Regions from separate parts of the Homo sapiens genome. Here regions 1 and 2 are each linked to region 3. The links come from fine-mapping of genetic effects on gene expression. A gene starts in region 3. Each other region holds a variant in brackets. All regions are shown on one strand. Distances are between the middles of the regions. Region 1 has its middle 15 kb from the start of TUBA1A. Region 2 holds the start of SPATS2 (spermatogenesis associated serine rich 2). Region 3 holds the start of LMBR1L (limb development membrane protein 1 like).

Evidence for each region.
Region 1: its variant is fine-mapped to the expression of LMBR1L in whole blood (INTERVAL, PIP 0.94).
Region 2: its variant is fine-mapped to the expression of LMBR1L in whole blood (INTERVAL, PIP 0.98).

The regions. Positions count from the first base shown.
Region 1 is chr12:49,172,294-49,175,052 of GRCh38, reverse strand. No RefSeq gene overlaps it. Among named protein-coding and RNA genes, the nearest start is that of TUBA1A, 15 kb to the left of the region's middle. RefSeq lists a silencer at 1,424-1,629. The variant C/T (reference allele first, on the strand shown) is at 1,388.
Region 2 is chr12:49,364,803-49,367,561 of GRCh38, reverse strand. It overlaps SPATS2 (spermatogenesis associated serine rich 2), which reads right to left and starts at 100. Exons shown (of 14, transcript NM_023071.4): 1 at 1-100. RefSeq lists a silencer at 1-470 and an enhancer at 761-1,020. The variant T/A (reference allele first, on the strand shown) is at 1,098.
Region 3 is chr12:49,109,759-49,112,517 of GRCh38, reverse strand. LMBR1L (limb development membrane protein 1 like) reads left to right here and starts at 1,671. Exons shown (of 17, transcript NM_018113.4): 1 at 1,671-2,034. The coding sequence starts at 1,963. RefSeq lists a silencer at 925-1,105 and an enhancer at 1,963-2,502.

The sequences.
Region 1 (2,759 bases), 63 kb before region 3:
CCGTCTCAAAAAAAAAAAAAAAATTGACTGAGGCAGGGTGCAGTGGCTCATGCCTGTAATCCCAGCACTTTGGGAGGCCTTATCTCTAAAAAAAAAAAAACAAAAAAACTTTTTTTTTTTGTTTTTTGTTTTTTTAAGACAGTCTCTGTCGCCAGGTTAGAGTGCAGTGGTGCGATCTCGACTCACAGCAACCTCCGCCTGCTGGGTTCAAGCGATTCTCCTGGCTCAGCCTCCCAAGTAGCTGGGACCACAGGCGCATGCCACCATGCCCAGCTAATTTTTGTATTTTTAGTAGAGACAGTGTTTCAGCATGTTGGCCAGGAGGGTCTCGATCTCTCGACCTCGTGATCCACCCACCTTAGTCTCCCAAAGTGCTGGGATTAGAGGCATAAGCCACCGAGCCTGGCCTGTAATTTTATTTTAGTAGAAACTGGGTTTCACCATGTCTGCCAGGCTAGTCTTGAACTCCTGGCCTCAAGTGATTCACCTGCCTTGGCCTCCCAAAGTGCTGGTATTACAAGCGTGAGCCAATGTGCCCAGTCAAAACAATTTTTTTTAATTAGCTGGGCGTGGTGGCGCAGCCCTGTAGTCCTAGCTACTTAGGTGGCCAAGGCAGGAGGATCCCTTGAGCTCAGGAGTGCAAGGCTGCAGTGAGCTGTGATCATATCACTGCACTCCAGCCTAGACGACAGAGCAAGACCCTGTCTCAAAAAAAACCACAAAAAACAAAAACAAAAAAACCCTGAGACATAGGGCAGGCTTCCATCTAGTAAATGGAGTAAGGAGGTAGGAAACAGCTGTAGAAAGAAAATGACACTTGCCGTGGACAGTAGCACATGCCTGTAATATCAACATTTTGGGAGGCTGAGGCAGGAGTATCGCTTGAGGCCAGGAGTTTGAGACCAGCCTGCACAACATAACACGACCCAGTCTCTCTTAAAAAAAAGAAAAAAGAAAAAAGAAAAATTTAATTAGCTGTGTGCAGTGGCAGTGCCTGGAGTCCCAGACACTCAGGAAGCTGAGACAGGAAGATCTCTTGAGCCTGGGAGATCAAGGTGCAGTGAGCTATGATTGGCCACTGTATTCCAGCCTGGGCAACAGAGCAAGACTCTGTCTCAAAAAAAAAAAAAAAGAAAAAAAGAAAAGAAAAGAAAATGAGAATGACAGTAACATACCACCATTTCCAATCCAGCATCAGAAGTAATGAATCAAAAGGTCCAGTATAAAGTTGGGCTCAGTGGCTCACACTTGTAATCCCAGCATTTTGGAAGGCTGAGGTAGGAGTATCACTTGGGCCAGGAGTTTGAGACAAGCCTGGGCAACATGGCGAGACCCTGTCTCTACAAAAAATAAATCAGCTGAGTGTGGTGGCCAATGTCTGTAGTCC[C/T]AGCTACTCAGGAGGCTGAGGCAGGAAGATCACTTGAGCCTAGGTGGTCAAGGCTGCAGTGAGCCATGATCACATCATTGCACTTCATCTTGGGTGATAGAGAGGAGACCCTATCTTTAAAAAAAATTAAATGAGGCCAGGCAGGGTGGCTTACGCCTGTAATCCTAGCACTTTGGGAGGCCAAGGCGGGCAGATCACAAGGTCAGGAGATAGATACCATCCTGGCTAACATGGTGAAACCCTGTCTCTACTAAAAATACAAAATATCAGCTGGGCGTTGTGGCACATGCCTGTAGTCCCAGCTACTCAGGAGACTGAGGCAGGAGAATCGCTTGAACCTGGGAGGCGGAGGTTGCAGTAAGCCAAGATCGCACCACTGCACTCCAGCCTGGACAACAGAACAAAAATCCGTCTCAAAAAAAAAATTAAATGAATAAAATAAAAATTAAAAGAAAGTCCAATGTAATAAGACGAAGAGGAGCTAACCCTAGAGAAAGGAGCTTAAAGAGATCAGGCCAGGTATCCAAGAAATAACACAAGGGGAAAACATCAGGGACCTAGGCAGAGGCCTGGTAGGCAGACTGACTGGCTCCCATGTTAGGGATTATATAAGGAAACAACAGCTCAATGCACCTTTGGGTGTTGGGTGTCCAGGATATTGAAGGCCAGATATTTAAGGTCTTTTTGCCTGTTGGTCAGAAACCTCCCACAATTCCTTGCCGCAAGGGCCTCTCCAAAGAGTAGCAGACAGCAAATGGCTTCCCTCAGGACAAGTGAGCAAGACAGCAAGAGAGAGCTGCCAAGATGAAAGTCACAGTCTTTTTGTAATGTAATATCGGAAGTGACATCTCATCACTTTTGCTGTAGCTAATAAGAAGTGAATCACGCATGGCCGGGTACGGTGGCTTACGCCTATAATCTCAGCACTTTGGGAGGCCGAGGCAGGTGGATCACCTGAGGTCAGGAGTTAGAGACCAGTCTGGCCAACATAGTGAAACCCTGTCTCTACTAAAATTACAAAAATTAGCCAGGCGTGGTAGCACAGGCCTGTAATCCCAGCTACTCAGGAGTCTGAGGCAGGAGAATCACTGGAACCCGGGAGGCGGAGGTTGCAATAAGCCAAGACTGCGCCATTGCACTCCAGCCTGGGCAACAAGAGTGAAACTCTGTCTCAAAAAATAATAATAACAATAATAATAATAATGAGAATTTAACCAATAAGTACATATGATTACATAGATTCTGTAATTCTTAGAAAAATCACAGATCCTGGATCTAGTTTTCTCTTCTCAGGCTTGCAAATTATAAATAAATAAAAGAAGTGCCTCTAAAAGATTCATAACCAAACATAATGCCAAGTCTTGTTTTTCTA
Region 2 (2,759 bases), 260 kb before region 3:
GTCGCCCCAGCTCCGGGCTCCGCGTCCCGGACGCTCCCGGGTCTGAGAAGAGGAAAGGAGATCCTCCACCTCCCCTTCTAGAGCCACCGCCGCCGTCGCCGCCGCGCTCCTCCCCCAGCTCTCTCAGAGCCGGACGCCGCCCCGCCCCCACCGCCGCCTCCCCACTTCTCTCCTGGGCCGGACTGCAGGATGCTGCCGGAGATCCAGCAGATCACCCCGACCCTCGCCCAGGCAGCGGCTCGCCCCGCCCCGGAGCCCTCTCGGGCGCGTGCGCGCCAGCCAGCCAGCCAGAGCTCAGGGCGCGTACTCGCGCCGGCGCGAATCCGGCGCGCCAAGCTCGAGGCTGTGGCAGCCAACGGGTGCGCGAGCGCGGCTCGAGCGGCGAGACGGCCCGCGCACCGGAGACCGAGAAGATCGGGGAGAGGCGCGGGGCGGCGAGAGGCGGGCTCCGACCAGTCGGGTTACCGCTCTTCTCGGGGCCCGGTCCCTCGCGTCTCGCACCGTCCGCAGGCTCGCGCGCCACCGGAGACTGGGAATTACCGGGGAAAGGAAGAGACTCGGGGAGAGGGTTGGGGACAAAGTAGATGGAAGGGGAAAACGGGTGGGACGCGAGCTCGCGTCCGCGTGCAGCACAGCTCGTACCCGGCGGCATCGGTTAGGGACCCGGCGCGCGCCGGGAACGGAGGGCCCGAGCTGAACTGACGGAAAGAGCCGAAACTCCCCCGGAGGTGGCCGAACGCGGGCGCCGCTAGGGGAGTCGAGCGCGGGGCTTTTGCTCAATGTCCGGGTTGGGAAGCTTTTTCTCTGGCCGCCGGGTACAGCGCCGCTCACTCTTCCGTACCGAGGACTTCACACCGCTTTCCCCTTCGCCTCCTTCCCGACCCAAGTTTTGTTCCAAAAGGCAATTTCAGAGTCGCCAACGACGGGAAACGCTGGGGCCTCCGGACCGCGCGGTCGCTCTGCCTCCTGAGAGAGCGCAGAGGCCGGTGGGGGCGCGGGAAGAATGACCTCGGGATCGTCAGTCGGGTTTCTGATCTACCCAGCTGTCAGCATAGCCCCTCTACGCGGCGGTGGTCGGTCCCGCCGCCCTTCGAATC[T/A]TTTCTGTTAAATACTCTCTTCGACGCCAGACTCCCAACCTCCCTGGTGCTGGAACTAACTAGTATTTGTGCACCCTTTCTGCATGCATAAAGCACTTACCTCAGTGTCGACTGGTCAGGGGTCTATTAAGAGGGGCCAGAGGGATTTAGACAGTCAGCATTGAAAATATTTATTAGAATCTGGGGCCGGGCGCGGTGGCTCACGTCTGTAATCCCAGCACTTCTGAGAGGCCGAGGCGGGCGGATGACTTGAGGTCAGGAGTTCGAGACCAGCCTGGCTAACATAGTGAAACCCCGTCTCTACAAAAAATACAAAAATTAGCCGGATGTGGTGGCACACGCCTGTAATCTCAGCTACTCGGGAGGCTGAGGCAGGAGAATAACCTGAACCCAGGAGTCGGAGGTTGCAGTGAGCCGGGATTGCACCACTGCACTCCACCCTCCATCTCAAAAAATATATATATATATTAGAATTTGTCCTCATCTTACCTTTTGAGGCCAAGCAAAGGGGCTCTGAAAAGGCACCAACAAGCTGGAGAGTGTGTGTCAGTGTATAGCTAGACACCACAGGCACATGTCATTTTGGTTTCCACGTATGTTATTGCAATCACAGTACATGTAACTGAGTAGTATAGTAGAGCTTTGCCAAGCCATCTGATCCTTGTGGTTTTTAACGTTGCTTGAGGTAAGGGCTCAAAAATCGCCTGGAGTCCAATGACCTGTGGTTAGTAATGTCTCATCTACTCCAACCATATGATTTACTGATCTAGATAAGCAGAAGACGAAGTCATCCAGCTAGGTACGGCACTGGACTATATGTTCCTTACTATTCAATCTTCATTCAAAAATTCAAATAGAAGCAAATTATCCAAATGTCTGCTTTCTTTTCATTCACTAAATTGGCACCTACTCAATGATGGTGGGTATTGTTCTAGGTATTCGAACATTTACAAAGAAGAATAAAAAAAATCATTACCCCAAGGAGAGTATCCAGTTCCAAAGGAGGATAAAGTTATTAAATAGGCCAGTTGCAGCAGCTTATGCCTGTAATCCCAACACTTTGAGAGGCCAAGGTGGGAGGATTGCTTGAGCCCAGGAGTTTGAGACCAGCCTGAGCAACATAACAAGGTCCCCCATCTCTACAAAAAACAAATATAAGTTATTAAATGACTATAATAACATAGTGTTGAAGCAGAAAAGTACAAAGTGGTTTAGGAACAGAAAGGAATGAGTGACTAATTCTTGCACAATTCCCCTTCCTTCCCATACAGAGTAGGAACAGGAGGATATGACCCTGGTAAATGGAGAACTTCATCATGAGGTGTGGGATGCGAGCCTTGAGTCCTATTCCACAAAGACTGGTTTCACTCACCAAAAGTCACTCAGTTCAGGAAATGCCTTCATTATAGGGCCTGTTGGTGCTGCAAAGCCAATACAAGTTTTTTGGCTGGAAAATAAAGTCCCCATTCTTGGCCAGGTTCGGTGGCTCATGCCTGTAATCCCAAAACTTTGAGAGGCTGAGGTGGATCACTTGAGCCCAGGGGTTTGAGATTAGCCTGGGCAACATAGGGAGACCCTGTCTCTACAAAAAATAAATTAGCTGGCTGAGGTGGCTGTGCTTGTTGTCCCAGCTGCCCAGGAGGCTGAGGTAGGAGGATTCCT
Region 3 (2,759 bases):
GCCACCACGCCCGGCTAATTTTTTATGTTTTAAGTAGAGATGGGGTTTCACCGTGTTAGGCAGGATGGTCTCGATCTCCTGACCTCTTGATCCGCCCGCTTCAGCCTCCCAAAGTACTGGGATTGCAGGCGTGAGCCACCGCGCGCGGCTAATGGCCAATTTTTAACTGCTCACTGAACTATGCAGCTGGATGTTGCTTTAAGAATTTAGAGGAGGTCGGGTCTGTTGGCTCACGCCTGTAATCCCTGCACTTTGGGAGGTCAAGGCAGGCCGACAGCTTGGGCCCAGGAGTTCAAGACCAGACTGAGCAACATGGCAGAATCAGCTAAGTGTGCTGGTGCCTGCCTGTGATCCCAGCTGCTCAAGAGACTGAGATGGGAAGATCACTTGAGCCTTGGAGTTGGAGGCTACAGTGAGTCGTGATCGCACCACTGCACACCAGCCTGGGCGACAGAGTGAGACTGTCTCAAAAATAAATAACTTAAAAGAAAATCTCCCTTCGTCTAAATCCTGTCTACTTCCAAGACACACACACACACACACACACACACACACACACACACACACACACACACACACACACACAAAATCTTGGCCGGACGTGGTGGCTCACGCCTGTAATCCCAGCACTTTGGGAAGCCGAGGCGGGCGGATCAACTAAGGTTGGGAGTTCAAGATGAGCCTGACCAACATGGAGAAACCACGTCTTTACTAAAAATACAAAATTAGCTGGGCGCGGTGGCGCATGCCTGTAATCCCAGTTACTTGGGAGGCTGAGGAAGGAGAATCGCTTGAACCCGGGAGGCGGAGGTTGCAGTGAGCCGAAATCACACCATTGCACTGCAGCCTGGGCAATAAGAGCGAAACTCCGTCTCAAAAATAAATAAAGAAATAAAAGCTGAATCACAACATCTTCCTCTGAAGTGTTGTTGTGACGTTAAAAATGAGATAATAGGCTGGGTGGGTCACGCCTTGTAATCCCAGTACTTTGGGAGGCCCATCACTTTGAGACTAGGAGTCCGAGATCAGCCTGGGTAACATGGCTGAGATAACGACTATAAAGTGAATGGCACATAGTAAGTGGTTAGCTAATGTTTGACTCAGCCCCACTCTTCAGTGATCCTTGTGGGCATTTCTTCACAAAGTTGCAAGGTATTTCTGTAGTCCTCTCTCCAGTATTTTTCAGTATTTGTTCTAGCACACACTAGGTCTTCCACAAAAATGATTGAATGAAAACTCCTGGCAGCGGGAAAGCGGGGTGGGGATGTGGGGAGGGGCACCCCAACACAAACACACAGAAAATGCTACTACAGAACATCGGTTACTGGGCAGCGGTACATTTCAGAACCCCTAGGGTGCCCTCACATCCTGCCTGGCTGGCCTGCTTCAAACGGTTCATTTAACCAAGGTCATACTAAAATGTTGGCTGCTACTAAAATCCAGGAACCTTCACTTTTCCCAGATAAGAGAGACAGTTGCTCTATTAGTATGGGCAGCGGTAGGCCCAAAAGATCCCGCCTTCCTCCACAGGGCGAGCCTATCAGCGCTCCTCCAGCGATGAACGACAGCTCTCCAGGAGCCAATGAGTTCCTCCCCCTGGAAGGAACCCGCCCATCCCTTGTGTCGTCACTAGATCTCTTAAAAAGATGGACCCTCAGCGGCGCTTCCTCGTAGCGAGCCTAGTGGCGGGTGTTTGCATTGAAACGTGAGCGCGACCCGACCTTAAAGAGTGGGGAGCAAAGGGAGGACAGAGCCCTTTAAAACGAGGCGGGTGGTGCCTGCCCCTTTAAGGGCGGGGCGTCCGGACGACTGTATCTGAGCCCCAGACTGCCCCGAGTTTCTGTCGCAGGCTGCGAGGAAAGGCCCCTAGGCTGGGTCTGGGTGCTTGGCGGCGGCGGCTTCCTCCCCGCTCGTCCTCCCCGGGCCCAGAGGCACCTCGGCTTCAGTCATGCTGAGCAGAGTATGGAAGCACCTGACTACGAAGTGCTATCCGTGCGAGAACAGCTATTCCACGAGAGGATCCGCGAGTGTATTGTGAGTGCGGGGCCCCGGCGAGGAGAAGCGGGGGTTGCGGGAGACGGGGAGGTTGGGGTCCGAGCCCACCTGGTCTCAGAGTGCCGTCAAACCATGCCTGGGCCAGCGGCGGGCGACGGAGGCCTCCGTCCGGGCAGAAGGGCGGGTGCCCGGCTAGCGATCCCCTAGATGGGATCAGCTGGGTCCCTGAGCGATAAACAAAGGCCGTCGTTTCCGTTCCTCCCCCACACGCCCCTCCCCTGCCCCTCCCTCCCACCCCTCACCCAGCGCGTCTTCCTGTTGGGGGTCTCCGGGGTCTGAGAGCCTGCGGAGTCTGCCTTAGTCTGATAATCGGGGAAGGATGGGTTTGCTTCTCAAACTGGGTTGAGGGCAAACTCAGCTGACGTTGGATGAAGGGGAGACGTCGTCACACTGAGCTTGATTCCAGAAAAGAGGGGAGGTGTAGGGATGGCAGACGGGAGGAACCTGGGGACTTGGTGGGTCATCTGCTTTGGAAGAAAGGAGTCTTGCTGGGGTGGATCCTAATATGTAGAGATGAGGAACAACCAAGTATTCCCCCGTCTTTTTTCTTTCTCATTGGTGTTTGTTTGAAACCCTGCAAGGCTGGGTTCCCAGCCTCTCAGCCATTCCGGGGTTTCCCCAGTGAGTGGTCCTCCCAGGGCTTCAGAGGGTACCTGGCTGCTGTTCCTTACGCCCTCCCTGCCACTTAGAGCGACAACTGAACC